2 separate regions of the Homo sapiens genome follow, and region 2 is linked to region 1. Evidence: fine-mapped expression QTL. A gene starts in region 1. The other region holds a variant in brackets. All regions are shown on one strand. Distances are from middle to middle.

Evidence for each region. PIP is the estimated chance that this variant, and not a neighbour inherited with it, causes the effect.
Region 2: its variant is fine-mapped to the expression of PPM1K-DT in fetal neocortex (Walker 2019, PIP 0.95).

The regions. Positions count from the first base shown.
Region 1 is chr4:88,281,531-88,290,051 of GRCh38, reverse strand. PPM1K-DT (PPM1K divergent transcript) reads right to left here and starts at 5,122. Exons shown (of 5, transcript NR_134238.1): 1 at 4,991-5,122. PPM1K (protein phosphatase, Mg2+/Mn2+ dependent 1K) reads left to right here and starts at 5,491. Exons shown (of 7, transcript NM_152542.5): 1 at 5,491-5,646. RefSeq lists a silencer at 5,129-5,348 and enhancers at 5,083-5,606, 5,519-5,608, 5,649-5,708.
Region 2 is chr4:88,252,998-88,261,518 of GRCh38, reverse strand. It overlaps PPM1K (protein phosphatase, Mg2+/Mn2+ dependent 1K), which reads left to right. Exons shown (of 7, transcript NM_152542.5): 7 at 1-3,899. Among named protein-coding and RNA genes, the nearest start is that of PPM1K, 27 kb to the left of the region's middle. The variant G/AG (reference allele first, on the strand shown) is at 4,299.

The sequences.
Region 1 (8,521 bases):
TCAAGTAAATAATTTTAAGTTAATTTTAAGTTAGGGTTAATATTTCTATCAGTTGAGATAGGATACATGAAGTTAGGTTAAGATCCAGTAACAAACTACATCAAAGGTTTGTTTCTTGTTCATGTTCCATGGCTATCATAGGCTTGCAGTGGAATTCTCTTCCTTGGAGTCATTCAGGGAGCAGCCATTCTCTGGAACATTGCTGGTTGCAATGGCAGAGGTGAGTGAACCTTGGAGGGTCTTGCACAGGGATACGAAATGCTCACTCAAAAATTACCCCATCACCTCCACTCACAATTCATTGACCAGGACAAGTCACAGATGCCTGCCTTCGCCTGGCACTACTGGCTTGGGTGATGAAGAACAGTAAACATTTAGCAAACAATGCTAATAATGACTATCATATTTCGCTTCCTTGATTTTGAGCATTTTGTGATTTAAATAAAACACAATTTTGTATAACCTTTCTTACAAAATACATTTACAAAATATGATTGTTCTCACAACAGCTCTGATGGGAAACATGCAATTAAAGGCTTGAATAAGGGTCAAATAGAATGAATAATAGTCAAATAATCGGAGGTGGAAATGGAAAGACATTTCAAATCTCTGTAGCATTGGTACTGGTCGAAGTTTTTTTTTTTTTTTTTTGAGGCAGAATCTTGCTCTTTTGTTCAGGCTGGAGCGCAGTGGCATGATCTTGGCTCGCTGCAACCTCTGCCTCCCAGGTTCAAGTGATTCTCCTGCCTCATCCTCCCGAGTAGCTGGGATTACAGGTGCACGCCACCACACCCAGCTAATTTTTGTATTTTTAGTAGAGACGGCATTTTGCCATGTTGGTCAGGCTGGTCTCGAACTCCTGACCTCAAATGATCCACCCTTCTCGGCCTCCCAGAGTGCTGGGATTACAGACATGAGCCACTGCGCCTGGCCTGAAGCTTATTTATTCCAAATTTTTAGAGGTAAATTATACAGGGTGGGGGAAGCAACAATCATATTTTAAAATAAAATCATTGCTGCAAGTTTAATTGCATCCAAGGACAAGATTTCAAATTCTCTCTCTCTCTTTTCTTTTCTTTTTTTTTTTTAAAGAGACAAGGTCTTGCTTTGTTGCCCAGGCTGGAGTGCAGTGGCATGTTCATAGCTCACTGCAACCCCAAACGCCTGGGATCAAGTAATCCTTCCACCTCAGCCTCTCAAGTAGTTGGGACTACAGGCATACATCACCATGTCTGGCTAATCTTTTTTTTTTTTTTTGTAGAACAGGGGTCTCACTATCTTGCCCAGGCTGGTCTCGAATTCCTGGCCTCAAGCTGTCTTCCTGCCTTGGCCTCCAAAAGTGGTGGGATTACAGGGATGAGCCACTGCAACAGACCTAAAAATTCTCTATGTCAGTGTTTTGGCAATTATCTTGGTAACACAGAGAAGGGACATCTGGGCTAGCAATTCAGGACAGAGCAGCCTGAACTGTGGAAAAAATACATCCTAGTATCCCAGGCCCATGTTTTAGGCATGAGGCCAAGAGTAGCCTACAGATACTTTTCTAGAAAACTGCTGATTCTGAGTATACAAAAATGTCCATATCTAATTTTAACAACAAATGATTCATTAGTGAATATTAATAATTCTGCAATTATACATACCACCCACCCACCCAAAGCCCTGTGAATTGTTTTGGGTGTAATTTTCTGATAGCCAGTGGTTTTCAGCAGATGGTCCAATTCTTTAAAATATAAACTGAGCTGGGCACAATGGTGCATGCCTGTAGTCCTAGCTACTCCAGTGAGGCGGGAGAATCATTTGAGCCCAGGAATTCAAGGCTATAGTGCACTATTATCACATTTGTGAATAGTCCCTGCAATCCAGCCTGGGAAACACAGGGAGACCCTGTCTCTAAAAAAAAATAAGTAAATAAAATAAAATATAAACTGAATAAAGAAGTAGCTCAACTTAATGAATGTACGGAGTGCCATATCCCCTTGATTATTTTGTACATTGTGCAGTGATCTGTCATGCCAAGTCAGCCTCTGTGGTGAATTCTTTTCCATTTTTTAATTTTTTGTCAAATACCAAATAATGATTTCCTTTACACATTATTCACATTTTAAAAGCTTTTATTTTAGGTTCTGGGGTACATGAACAGGTTTCTTATACAGATAAACTGCATTTCATGGGGGTTTGGTGTACCAATAATTGTGCATTTTATTTTATTTTTTTGAGACGGAGTCTTGCTCTGTCGCCCAGGCTGGAGTGCAGTGGCGCGATCTCGGCTCACTGCAAGCTCCGCCTCCCGGGTTCACGCCATTCTCCTGCCTCAGCCTCCCAAGTAGCTGGGACTACAGGCGCCCGCCACCACGCCGGCTAATTTTTTGTATTTTTAGTGGAGACGGGGTTTCACCGTGTTAGCCAGGATGGTCTTGATCTCCTAACCTTGTGATCCACCCGCCTCGGCCTCCCAAAGTGCTGTCACCTAGGCTAGAGTACAGTGGTGAGATCATGGTTCACTGCAGCCTGGACCTCCTGGGCTCAGGTGATCCTCCCACCTCAGCCTCCCGAGTAGCTGGGATCACAGGTATGCGCCACCATGCCTGGCTCATTTTTGTATTTTTTTGTAGAGACCATGGTTTTGACATGTTGCTCAGGCTAGTCTTGAACTCCCAGCTCAAGTGATTGGCAGCCTTGGCCTCTCAAAGTGCTGGGATTACAGGCATGAACCACTGTGCTGGCCATGAATTATTTTTGTGGTGTATTTAGCTATGCTTCAGAGATTCAAAACCCAGAAGCATATAATTCAAAAGAAGTAAACTGCTGGCTTTAATTTTAATGAGCTGTGGTAGAGTGTGAAATGGTGTGATTTTCAAAGGCAATTTCAAGGACTGTTTTAGTATCAAAGATATTCTTCAGAACAGCCTAAGTGGCTTTGCTTATCATGTGACTCTGGATTCCAGTCTGTTTTGGTACAAGGATTTAGCAAAGTCATGATGTTCTCAGATGCTGGGCATGCAAGTGGTTATAAAAAAGGTCAAAACTCCAGGACAATTCAAAATATTTTACACTTCCAAGCTTAAAATTTCCCACATCTTTCTTGTTACCAAAATTTTTCACATTTGTGAAAGCAAAGTCCTCATTATCTGCACCAAATTTTGATCCAAATGATTGAGATATTGCAACACATGATACTACATTATTGATGAGCAGATTTTTAAAAACTTAATAGTAACTTAGCTACCAAAATACTCCATCAAATGAAAGCCATCACCAACAGATATGTAGTAGAATGCTCATAGTAGCACTATCTATAATGGCTCTAAATGGCAAACTGCCCTAATGTCCATCAGAAGAATGAATTCATAAATTACAGTATATCCACAGAATGGAAAACAAAATGAATGATCTACAACTGCATACAACAATATGGAAGAATCTCACAAGTGTAATGTTGAGTCCAAGTAGCCAGAAACAAAAGAACACATACTTTATGGCTTTATATATAACAAGTATAAAGATAGGCAAAACTACCTATGCTGTTGAAAGTCAGCATAGAAACTCCCCTTGGAAGAAGGCAGTGCCTGGAAGGCAGGTTGATGGGGTTCCCAGGTATTAATAATGTTTTGTTCCTTGATCTGGGTGCTGGATACAAAGGTGTCTGCAGACTGTGAAAATTCATTGAGCTGTCTACACTTAGGATATGTGCACTTTTTAAGACACATGTTTCAATAAAATTATTATTTTTTTAAATTCCACGCCAGGTACAGTGGCTCATGCCTGTAATCCCAGCACTTTGGGAGGCTGAGGTGGGTGGATTGCTTGAGTTCAGGAGTTCAAGACCAGCCTGGGCAACATGGGGAAGCCCCATCTCTACAAAAAATATAAACATTAGCTGTGTATGGTTGAGCGTGCCTGTAGTCACAGCTACTTGGGAGGCTGAAGTGGGAGGATCACTTGAGCCTGGGAAGCAGAGGTTTCAGTGAGCTCAGATAGCGCCACTGCACTCCAGCCTGGGCAGGAGTAAAACCCTGTCTCAAAAAAAAAAAAAAAAAAAAAAAAAAAAGAAAGAAAGACAAAAGAAAAAAAAATCCAGGAAGTCTATGAAAAGACATCAACTCAACATAATATTACTCAAGGTTATTACTATAATTTGTGAGCCGTCAATATGAGAGTCACTCTCTAACCTGGTTATTAAATGCACTGGATTCAAAACAGTTGTCCCTGGCCTAGAATAACTAAAATGCCAAATCAAGTTAATTATTTATCTTTAAAATCTCTAATCTCTCTGCTCTTCTCTCCCTTCAGTGATATTGTCATAGTTTAATCAAAGTCATCTTCCACCTTAAATTTCATCTGTCATCATCTCCTAATCAGTTTCCCAATAGCTTATTTTAACTGTTCTTTGCACACTAACCAAAGTGATGTAAAGTCTAAACCCAGACCCTTTCACTTCTTTTTTTCGAATGCCTCAATAGAAGCCCATTAAATTTAAAATGTAATGCCAACTCCAAGCCCCTGTCTGCCTCATCTCTCTCACATCATGCTGTTCTTTCCCTCCCTCAATATGCTGGAGACACTTTGGCTTTCTTTCTGTTCTTCCAAAACGCCGGGCTGTCTCACCGAGAGACCTTTGTCTGCTGTCCCCTCTGCCCAAAACAATTCATCATTTTATTGGTTCCATGGCTGAATGACTGATGGTTTAAATGCCATCTTATAAAGTTCTCATATAACAATCTTATCTGAAGTTATCCTCCAGTGTCCACACCATGCCTATTTCTTTCCTTGACATGATTAATTACTATTCTATGTGCTTGCTTACTTGTTGGTTTTCTCCCTCTTCTTTGTTAGACTGAAAATTCTATGAGGGCAGCTATCGTGTCTAGCTGTGTTAGGGGCGTATCCCCAGTGCCTAGCAAATGTATAGCATACAAGACGTCCTTCAATAAACACAGAAATACTTGTTTAATGAATTAATAGACATTCCCTAAAGATCACAAGATACCTGTTCAGCCACGAAGAAGACTGCACTGTGCACTGCTGTTCAAAGACATGGCAGTGAAATCAGATGCCTTTCAAACTCTAAGCCTAAGCAGTATTGGCATTCCGTTCTCGGTTTCCTGGCTGTCACAACTACAGTCCCTTAGCCCGAAGCGAAACCCCCTCCGCGCTCCGCCCGCTGGCTAGGTACCAAGTCTCGCGGCCCCACCCACCGCGCAAGCGCGCCCCCTCTTTGGCTGGGGAGCTAACCTCGGGAGGGCGGGGCGCCGCCGCGAGCCACCACTGGCACAGGGTGACGTCGCTCCGCCGCGCAGCTGGAAGCCTGCGAAGTCAAATAGCAGCCGCGGGGAGGCTCGTTCCCATCGGCATCTGTGACTGGCTGCGATCGAGGGCCCGGGCGGCCGGCCAGCCGTCTCGCCGAGTGCGGACTGGCCGGATCTGCTGTCAGTCAGCGGGAACAGACTTCTCCCTCTCCATCTGGTCAACTGCGGGAGAAAAATTTTCGAGAATTTCCAGCAGGCAAGGCAGTGGCCGCTTTGACTGCTTGCTTCGGAGATCCGAGACGACGGAGAAGGCACTCTTATTTACCGACCAAGAAAGCTCCTCCCCCGTCCTCCGTTAGCTAATTAAAACATTTTTCAGGGACGTAGCCATCCAGAGGTAAGAGCCTAGAGAGTGCAATTCATTTATTTCTGCTAACCATGTATGCTGTTCTTTATTGGCGGTCGCGGAATGGAGAGTAAACGGAGAAGGGTTTCCCGGGAGGTCGAAGGGGAGACGTCGGTTTCCGTTCCCCCGCCCCCCGAGTCGGCGCTTGGCCGGCGGCCTCTCGGAGTTCTCAGAGCGTCGCTTTCTTCCCTTTGGAGGTCGTGAGCAGCTCGTCGGGGTGAGGCGGGGCCCAGCTGGGCTGCCTGCGCCCCGGGCGGCGGGTTTCCAGCCCAGACTGCGCTCGGCCTTGAATGTGGCCGCAGGCTGGAGGGCCAGCGCGGCGCGAGGCGGGCAGGGTGGGTGGGCTGGGACTGGAGACCCTTGCCCGAGGCCCCGGAAGCGAGGATGCTGCGGGGTGGGTGCCGCGTTGCCTCCCGGGCGAGGGAAACGTGGCGACAACGGGCTCGGTACGCCCAGAGGGAGGTTGGGAGGCGGAGACCTGGCGGCAGAAGGTGCCGAGGGAGCCCAGCTATTTGCGAGGCTTCGCAGGCAGGCGGGCGTGTGTTCTTCCCACCGTGTGTCACCCTGACCACCCGCCTGTCAGGGCCAGCGAGCCGAGGCCAGGATCCTGAGCTGTACCCAGGTGAGCTTTTCAGGAGGTCCGGCATCGTGAAGGATGCACAGCCCCGGCTGGTTTTGATCCGAAGACTTGGGTTTTACTTTGCGCAGGGAGCGCTGTAGTACTCAAGGCGTTGTAGCTGGTGATGTCTTTTTCAGCAGCCGCTTTCTGTAGATGAGGGAATTCACCGGATGTGACAAAGAGGCTCCAGGTGGAAATAGCCAGGGAATTTGCAGTCTCAAAAGCTCCACGGGCTTTTCTGAGCCTCCCACTGCTAACGTGCAGCAAGGCCTCATCGGTTCTTTCCGTCAGGGCGGAGGAATGAGGCTGTCCTTCGGTTTCAGAATGAGCGACTAAAGTGACAGATTACAATGACGATGAAAAAGAGCAATGAGACCGGTAGCAATGGCTCACGCCTGTGATCACAGCACTTTGGAAGGCCAAAGCGGGCTTGAGCCCAGGAGTTCGAGACCAGCCTGGGCAACACATCGAAACCTCGGCTCTACAAAACATACAAAAATTACCCGGGCGTGGTGGCATGTGCCTGTGGTCCCAGCCCCGGAGGCTGAGGTGGGAGGATCTCTTGATCCTGAGTGGTCGAGGCTGCAGTGAGCCGAGATCGCACCACTGCACTCCAGCCTGGGCGACAGAGCAAGACCCTGTCTCAGAAAGAAAAAGAAAAACAGCCATGGTTTGTGGTGTTCTGGTTAGGCAGCTGTGGCAGGAAGAAGAGCAGCACGTGCGTGTGTGTGTGTCTGATAAAATACCTTAGTTACAATATTTGAGTAGTGAGTTCTCGCTAATAATTTTTTCTTGCAACCTTAGTCATTACTACTGATCACCCAGGCAAATTCCTTGACTGCAATCCTTAGAGACGAGGAAAGAAGAGAGGAGAGTGGCTGGTGACATAATAGACTGTGAAGGAAAGTTCTTAAAGGCATTATAAAGTTACAGGTTTGGGATATAGTCTGTGGCTTGTATGCATATTTACTAACGTGTCTTAAAAGATATCTATGGGAATAGAATACTGAGTACTTTTCACTGCTCACATTTCACACTTTTCTCCAGTCACACATCTGAACATAGACATATTCACATTAAACCTAAGGGGAGTCCTTTGGAGTTTTTATTGTTGTTTTCTTTTTTCCCCTCAGGTAAAGCAGTAAATTTTCTTTCCCTTCCTCCTAGCAGGGTATTGAGAAAGAAGGTATTGGGGTCCCAATTAGCTGAAATACATTCTGGAAATTTCCATACTATTTGAATTTACTGGGATGCCTTAATTGATTTTCTAAAAAGGTCGATAGGTAAATATTTGGTTTAAGAATATTTAAAAGGGCTGTGTTCTCATTGTGGAAGTTGTAGATACCTAAATGCCACTTCATAATGGGCAGATAGGAATGCTTTCTTAAAATATTTTTTCTAGAGGGATAAAATCTAAGCAGGTTTCAGAACTTTAGAACTCCTGAATAATTTTGGCATGTGCTTAAACTGCCCTTTTGACCTGCTTTTAACATACAAGAACAGTTTAACTCAAATCCAGTGCACCTTCCTGCCAGAGAAAGTGCTTTCCTTTTGGATGACTTGACTTCCAAAGATTGAATATAATGTTAAAATGGTTTATAAAAATAAACTAGCCATGTTTTCCGATCAAAAAATTGACCTAAATCTCCCCTGCTTACTTAAAAAGATTCCTTCTCTCTCTTAGTTTGTGGAATAATGAACTCATCCCAATTTTTAATTGCTGAACTGACAAAAGACAATCCTTAGGTGTTTGCTAGTTTGTTCTCCACTCTTTTTGTTTAGAGAACACTGATTGCTTTTTTTTTTTCCTTAAGGTTTTTGTTTTTCACATCACAAGTTCTACTCCCCTTGCCTTGCTGGTCAAAGCATAGTCATTCCCATGGGCATCGGCAGAGCTGTGGGGTCTATGATGGCAGATCCCAATTGTGGAGTTCTGGAGGAGGAAACTTTTCTTAATGTGCAGGTTTAATTCAAAGTTGTTATTTACTTTGGGAACTCCAGCTGCCTTTGAATTGTTTCTTAGGGAATATGGAGGGGATTGATATGATTTAGTTACATTGCAGATGGAAAAGGACATGGAGCCAGTTCGTAACATCTCGTTTACCTAAGCGATGCCGACCTGTTTGTTTGTTTTTTATAAACTAGCTATATATCTGGGTCACATTTCATCTCTGCCAATAATATGCCTTAAAGTAGGTGGTTTCCTATGACTGCCTGCTTTCTGAGATGATTATAGAAACAATACAC
Region 2 (8,521 bases), 29 kb after region 1:
GTCTTCCGGTCAAAAGTTAAATACTGATGGAATCAAGTATTTTGTATGAAGTTCTCATTTGTTATCTCTAACGCTATTTTGTGTTTTGCATATAGTATTATAGTATGTGTATATCACTTTTTGTATAGAGTAAGCAATTGAATAATTTGTTAATAAAAATAATACCACATTGACTGATACTGCTATAGACATAGCTTGAGTTTTATGTCTCCTTTTTGCTCATTTTCTAAGACTTAGGAGAAAGAATAAATCTAAAATGACCATTAAAACATTCTCCATTTCAGCTTGCTGTGTAACTTAGGAAGTATAAAACTATACTTCTCTTTATCTGCATGTAAGTTTGCTGTTAAAATGTGAATTTCTAAATGTGTATTTGGAATTATTTCCGTAGTTTATTTCTGCAAACTATGTAAATTTGTTATATGTGTGAGTATGTGTACATATGTATATTTTAGAGTAATATAAAATTAAAGGGAACAATCTTGCATAGCTCTTTCACCAGTTTTAAATTATTGATACGTTATTTTTAAGGACTCTTGACAAACTAGGGGCAATTTTCTTATAGTGGAGACCCAGTGATTATCAGCAGATGAGGAAATAGGTTAAAAATTGCTATATGGCAATTTGTATATAAAGTAATAGGATGTGAGAAAAATACTGAATCTTAAGAATGACATGGAATTCTGTGGCAGAAACAAAAGAAAAAGTTGATGTAGTATATACCTTCAACTGTGTTTTGAGTTGACTTTTTTTTTTTTCTTTAAGCTTTGGGTAAAAATGTATGAGGAGGGAGAGGGCCCAATATAAATATTTACATCTTCTTACCTTTTTGGAAATGGAAGAAGATAAATCTTGAGTTTTTCTGCCTATATTAATCAGGAATTGCCCTTTGAAAAAAGTGCTAAATAAATATTTTGATTTTTTTTTTCAAGGGAAGTTAGGTGAAAGAAGGAAAAACATCACAGGAAAGACTGTTAACATTCTGTTTGTTGTCTGAGAGGTGAGGAACCAAAGGGAGGCAACTAAAGCGGGAAACCATCTTGCTTTTTCTAATCAGTTCTTGGAACAGAAATGTGGAAGCTACCTTTAGGAACATGGAGAATTTCCAAACCAACAGGCAAAGGAAAACTAACGCACAAAAATGACATTCTGAAGATGCAGGTTTCAGCCAGGCGCGGTGGCTCAAGCCTGTAATCCTAGCACTTTGGGAGGCCAAGGCAGGTGGATCACCTGAGGTCAAGAGTTAGAGACCAGCCTGGCCAACATGGTGAAACCTCATCTTGACCAAAAAATGCAAAAATTAGCCAGGCGTGGTGGTGGGTGCCTGTAATCCCAGCTACTGGGGAGGCTGAGGAAGGAGAATTGCTTGAACCTGGGAGGCGGAGGTTGCAGTGAGTCGAGATCGCGCCATTGCACTCCAGCCTGGACAGCAGAGCAAAAACTCCATCTCAGATAAATAAATAAACAAATATGCAGGTTTCATTTTTGTTTTGAATGCTTTACATTACTATTCCTATCTTTTACTTTAAAAACTAAGATGAGGAGTGATGTTGTCAAGTTCAAAGGCATGAGGGTGATTGATGGATTGAGGTAGATAGCCAAGTTTGTCTGTTTTTGTTTTTTATAGTTACAGAGTCTCACTTTGTTGTCCAGGCTGAAGTGCAGTGGTGCAATCATAGCTCACTGAGATTGCCAGGTTCGACAAAGAGGAATTTATAGGATGGGGATATAGGGTAGACTTGACTCTGCTTTATCCGGGAAAGCTTTTAAAACTCTGAGCCAGTTAACTTTGAGTAAGCATAAAACATACTGTATTGGTGTTTGTATTTTTCATGCCACAATATTAAAATGGAATTTTAAATGTAGATTATTATAATCTATAAAAGATAAGTATGCATGTATTAGGATACTGGAAAATATGCAAATCATAGTAAAAAAAAAGGGACTGCTCTAGTTTTTCAGTTATAACTGAATTTGCCATGTGGGTATAGGCATAGTGTAAATTACATTAATGTAGTAAAACATCAATTGTGGTTCGGTTTGTCTTTCATTTATGTGTAGTATAGAAATCACCTTTCTAATATGTGTTGCCAAACTATTTGCCACCATCTATTTGGTGAAATATTCATTGTCATTGTGATTTTCCACAAGTATAAGTTCTTAAGTACTTTATAGATTCAGAAGTAAATGCTGTCCTGTTCTCCATCAGCTGTTCGTTTGTTACAGATTTTGTATTTCTTTTTTTTTTTTTTTGAGATGGAGTCTCACTCTGTCACACAGGCTGGAGTACAGTGGTGCGGTCTCGGCTCCCTGCAACCTCTGCCTCCCGGGTTCAAACGATTCTTCTGCCTCAGCCTCCTGAGTAGCTGGGACTACAGGCGCGTGCCACCACCCCTGGCTAATTTTTGTATTTTTTTTTCTTTTTTTTTTTTGAGAAGGAGTCTCTCTCTGTCACCCAGGCTGGAGTGCAGTGGCACGATCTCGGCTCACTGCAAGCTGCGCCTCCTGGGTTCACGCCATTCTCCTGCCTCAGCCTCCCGAGTAGCTGGAATTACAGGCGTCCGCCACCGTGCCCGGCTAATTTTTTTGTATTTTTAGTAGAGATGGGGTTTTGCCATATTGGCCAGGCTGGTCTCGAACTCCTGACCTCAAGTGATCCACCCACCTCGGCCTCCCAAAGTGCTGGGATTACAGGCATGAGCCACCGCACCTGGCCAGATCTTTGTATGTCTTAAGTGTTTCAAAGTTATAAGCATTTTTCTGGGGGGATGTCCATTTTGGAGGGATCCATTTTGATCCTTTGTACTCTATAATGTGAACTTTCCCCTGTTCCAACACTTAAAAGAGAATTATTAGCACATAATCTAAAAGATGGAATTTTTTTTTTTTCTTGAGACAGAGTCTCGCTCTGTCGCCAGGCTGGAGTGCAGTGGCGCGATCTTGGCTCACTGCAACCTCTGCCTCCTGGGTTTAAGCGATTCTCCTGCCTCAGCCTCTGGAGTAGCTGGGACTACTCGTGCATGCCACCACGCCCGGCTAATTTTTGTATTTTTAGTAGAGACAGGGTTTCACCATATTGGCCAGGATGGTCTCGATCTCTTGACCTCGTGATCCACCTGCCTCGGCCTCCCAAATTGCTGGGATTACAGCACTGTGCCCTCCTAGGAAATTATTTTTTAAGTGAAATTTTATTTTTATTTTTTTTAGGATTTTGGTAGAGAATGAGTAGGCCTACTCATCAATATCAAACAGGACATTTAGTTTCTTTCCTTAGAACAGACATAAATTTAATTTCATGGTAATATGATAATAAGAAAATGCTTCTATTTTTCTTTAGCACCTCCATGGTTCTCATATACCCATGTCTGTAAAAAGTGACATGAGAATTTTGTTGGGTTACATTTTATTGTATTTATTAGATTCGCTTATATAGATGACTTAGGCAGAAATAAAGTCATGTCTTTAGAAGGTGAACAAGCCAACTTGTGATGGCCTGCCTTTTGCTTTTGGCAGTTGGGATGAGAACAATTGACTCTCCCATTGGTTGTTAGATAGTTGAAATGGTGCGTTGGTGGTCATACTTAGTGTTCTAGGCTGTGAAATCATGGAGTTCTTCCACTTCCAAGAATGACTCATTTGCTGTTGGATTCTAGTACAGAATTTAGCAGCCTGATGTGTCCCCAAACTGATTTAATTTCTACTGAAGTGCCCTTGTGTACATTTGTTTTGTAATTTACCAAAGTACTACCTGAGTGTATAATGACTCCTGCAGTGAGTTAATGTAATTGCTGCTTTGACCATTGTTTTAAATCTGTGTACTAGAGTAACTGTGAGCAGAATGAAATCACATTATCTCAGTGTTCAAAATATCATTCTAATAAAGTACATGCATTAAACAATTTTAAAAATCCAACTGTGTTTATTTGGCATCCAGACTGCAACATTGTGTATGTGATCCTGTGAACTCCATAAAAGAGTGATATAAAAGAGCTAATGGGCCGGGTGCAGTGGCTCATGCCTGTAATCTCAGCACTTTGGGAGGCCAAGGCGGGTGGATCACTTGAGGCCAGGAGTTTGAGACCAGCCTGGCCAACATGGCAAAACCCCGTCTCTACTAAAAATACAAAAATTAGCCGGGTGTGGTGGTGCGCACCTGTTATTCCAGTTACTCGGGAGACTGAGGCCTGAGAATCACTTGAACCTGGGAGGCAGAGGTTGCAGTGAGCCAAGATCATGCCACTGCACTTCAACCTGGGTGACAGAGTGAGACTGTCTCTCAAAAAAAAAAAAAAAAAAAA[G/AG]ATAGTCCAGAAACTCTAACCTAATAGATGAATGAACATTAGAGATGGTAATTGAGAATATGTCACATAAATGTACAAGCCAAATGAATATAACTGGGGAGCAAGTATGAAGGAGTGGATAGAATGACCAAACAGTACAGGACTTAGAAATGACCATGTAGGGAAGCCTAATAAAGTCAGTCTACCAGTGGTAAGTATTGAGAACCTATGACCTATGTACATTTCTGTAAAAGACACCAGGGTGGATGTAGCAGGGCTTGGGGACAATGGTGGTCGATTATCTTCCCAGAGAGATTTTGTCAGGAGATGGAAAAGTGAGGAAAGTGAATTATACCAGAAAGATAGCAGTGTGTATCTGAACAAGTGAAGCGAATGTGGAGGCAACAGAGATCTAATCAGTGAAGTCACTGAGCCTTTGGTAACACACCAAGGGTAGGTTCTAGCCCGGATCAGGAGATCTATCTCACATCTTAGGAGGCAGGGAGCCAAAAGCAAGACTAGTAACATGGCTTTTTTTTTTTTTTTTTTTTGCTGAGCCCAGTGCAAAATAAAAATGCAGAGCCATTATTAAAAAATTATTAAGAATTTAATAAAGAGTCCAGTGTGGTGGCTTATGCCTGTAATCCCAGCACTTTGGTAGGCCGAGATGGGTGGATCGTTTGAGCCCAGGAGTTTGAGACCAGCCTGGACAATGTAGTGAAACCCTGTGTCTATAAAAAATAGAAAAATTAGCCAGATGCGGTGCACGCTTGTAGTCCCAGCTATTAAGGAGGCTGAGATGGGAGGATTGCTGGAGCCCAGAAAGTTGAGGCTGCAGTGAGCTGTGATCCTGACACTGCACTCCAGCCCGGGCAACAGGGAGCAAGACTTCAGACTCCATCTCAAAAAAAGGGAAAAGGAATTTCAAGATTGCAAGAATAGAGCATTAAATCAAGTGTGGGACCCTTCCAAGTGCTGGGCCCTGTGTAGCTACACAGGATTGACACTCATGAAGTTGACCCTAGCCAAAGGGAAATACTATGTGGGAGCAAATCTTAAGTTACTGCAGAGCACACAAAAAAGAAGGGAGCATAATGTAAAGAAGCCAATAGTGCTCTACAACACACATACGTAGAGGCTAGGAGAACAGAAGGCGTCAATAAAAGTAGCAGTAGAAGGCCAGGTGCCGTGGCTCATTCCTGTAATCCCAGCACTTTGGGAGGCTGAGGCGGGCAGATCTTTTGAGGCCAGGAGTTCGAGACCAGCCTGGCTAACATGGTGAAACCCCATCTCTACTAAAAATAAAAACATTAGCCAGGTTTGGTGGTGCAGGCCTGTAGTCCCAGCTACTCTGCAGGCTGAGGCACGAGAATCGCTTGAGCCTGGGCGGTGGAGGTTGCAGTCAGCCAAGATCGCACCAACAGAGTTAGACTCTTTCTCAAAACAAAAAAGAAAAAGAAAAAGTTTAGTAGCAGAACACTTCATGGTAAGAGCTCAGAGAAAGAGCTTTCAATTAAGGTGTCCCAGGAGTTGTCCTATTTCATTTATTTCTTCCCAAAATATTGTAAGATGGAGGTACGGTATTGTCACAGGTTGCGTTCCCTAGGAAGCAGACTCAGACTGAGATTAGTGTGCAGGAAGTTTATTAGGTAATGCTCTTGGAAACAACACATATGACAGGGAAAGGACAGAAGCAGGAATGGGCAGAGGGAGACTTTGGTCTGTCATGTCATGACAGAGGCCCACTGTCCTCTGCAGGGAGCTCTGGAATTGCAATGTCCCCTAGAGTTGTGCCCACTTGATGGGGGTCTGAGGAACAGATTTTTATTACCCTGACATTGAGCATTAATTGGATGCAGACAGTCCTTGGAAAGAGGACGTGACTGAACAAGGAGACTGTCTTCTGCCATCTGCCATCAGGAAATACCTGGAGAGGATGACAGATGAGAGCTGTCCCCTGGCAGTGCTCCTAGCAGCTAGAGAAAGAGTTCTCGCACAACACAGCATCCACTAAGATTTTTATTTTTTTGTTTTTTTAGAGATACAGTCTTGCTCTGTCACCCAGGCTGGAGTGCAGTGGCACTGTCACAGCTCACTGCAGCCTTGAACTCCTGGGCTCAAGGAATCTTCCCACATCAGCCTCCTGAGTAGCTAAGACTATATTATAGGTGTAATTTTTTTGTAGAGATGGGGTCTTGTTATGTTGCCCAGGCTGGTCTCAAATGCCTGGCCTCAAGTGATGCCCCTGCCTGAGTCTCCCAAAGTGCTGGGATTACAGGTGTGCGCTACCGTGCCCTGGCCTGCATCCACTAAGTTTTAACTTCACTCTGCATTTAAGACTGAAAAGACTGAGGGATTTGTCCAAAATCCCACACCAGTTTCTGTGCAGTTCAAACCTTCATTTCTGGGAACTGCCCCTTACTCATAGCTCTTACTTAAATGTTTGGTCTGGGGGCCATGTTTGTACCAACTGACACTTATTGCTATTTTTTTTTTTTTTTTTTTTGAGACAGAGTCTTGCTCTGTCGCCCAGGCTAAAGTGTAGTGGCACAATCTCGGCCCACTGCAACCTCCGCTTCCTAGGCTCAAGCGATTCTCCTGCCTCAGCCTCCCGAGTAGCTGGGATTACTGGTGTGCACCACCACGCCTGGCTAATTTTTGTATTTTTGGTAGCGATGGGGTTTCTCCATGTTGGACAGGCTGATCTCAAACTCCTGACCTCAAGTTATCATCCTGCCTCCACCTCCCAAAGTGCTGGGATTACAGATGTGAGCCACTGCGCCTGGCCACTTCTTGCTATTTGGACTACATGATCCTAAAGTCAATCCTTGGCCAGTCAACAACCATATTCTCTTAAAAATTTATGCTGAGAGAAGGTTGGGCTCCTGAGCTGTGTAATGGAAGGAGCTAAGATTGAAAGATTTGTCAAACTGGCCTACTGGTTTCTAGAAAACGTGCACACTGTTAAGTGCAGAGAAAAGCAGAGATGAGAGCAGACATTTCCCAGAGAGAGACAGAAGTGGAGGAAAGAGCTGCCTCAGGCCCAGCAGTCTCAGCTCCCAGCCCCTGGCTGGTTTGAGAAGATTTCTGTATAGATTCAAACTCCTGTAGATAACAAAAAAAGCAGCCCCTGAGGACTCTAGCAAGGGATTCAAACCCAGCCCTATTTCATCCCAAAGTCAGTTATTTTCCACTGCAAAAGTCAGATAAGGTTAATAAGTACTTATACATTAATAAGTAAATGAAAAAATACCAGAAGGAACATGAGAACGCTGCAGCCATTAATTGGAAACCAGGAGGAAGAGAGTAAGTAGAAAATGTGTCAGGGCAAGAAGGAGAAAACACAGTAAAAGTAAACAAGACCAAGACTAAAGTTAACCAAACTCTTAGATTTTAGACTTCCCTGACCACAATTATGGCTTCACTTTCCCATTTCTCATTCACTTCTCAATTCCCTGCATTCTACCCTCTGACTCCACCACACCAGTGAAACATTGGTCTCAAAGGTCCACACTGACCTCTTATTGGCTAGATACAGTGGTTCTTTTTAGTTTTAACTTACTTGAGCTCTTTAGCATTTAACCCTCTTGGCCACTCCCTTCTCATTAAGCAGTCTTATCTTTCCCATCCCTACTTTTCTGGTTTTCCTTCTAAATATCCAGCAGTTGCTTCTCAGTCCCCTGCCCACTCATTGTCTACCATCAACCATCTTCTCATGGTGTGTACTGTCCTTGTGAAAGGCAATACTGCGTTATGACTGCACCTGTCACCTGTATGCTGGTGACTTGCCACTTTATTCCCAGCCAAGATTTCTCTCCTAAGCTCCCAACTAAAATATCCAGACAGGGACTGAAAATGGCCATTGAGGGCCTCTAGACACCTCAACATATCCAAAATGGAATTCCCACCCAAGCTTATTCCTTCTAATTTGCCTCTCGTGGTGAATGGCAATGCCTCCCACTCAGACTCCCAAAGCAAAACCCAGGAACCAACCTTTGCTGCTTCATGTCTATAATTTGTCTCCTCTGCTCCATCCTCACTACAACACGGGAGTTTTCCAACTGGTTTCCCTTGCCTTTGGGGTCACCCTTTGTCCATTCTTCACACACTAATCAAAGCATGCTTATGTTTACATTCTTCCAATTGCAACTTCTAGGTAAAATTAAAGCTCTTTAGCATTGCATGAAAGACACTTTCTTCGTAATCTATTCCCTGCCACTGCTCCAGCGTCATTTCTTCCACTT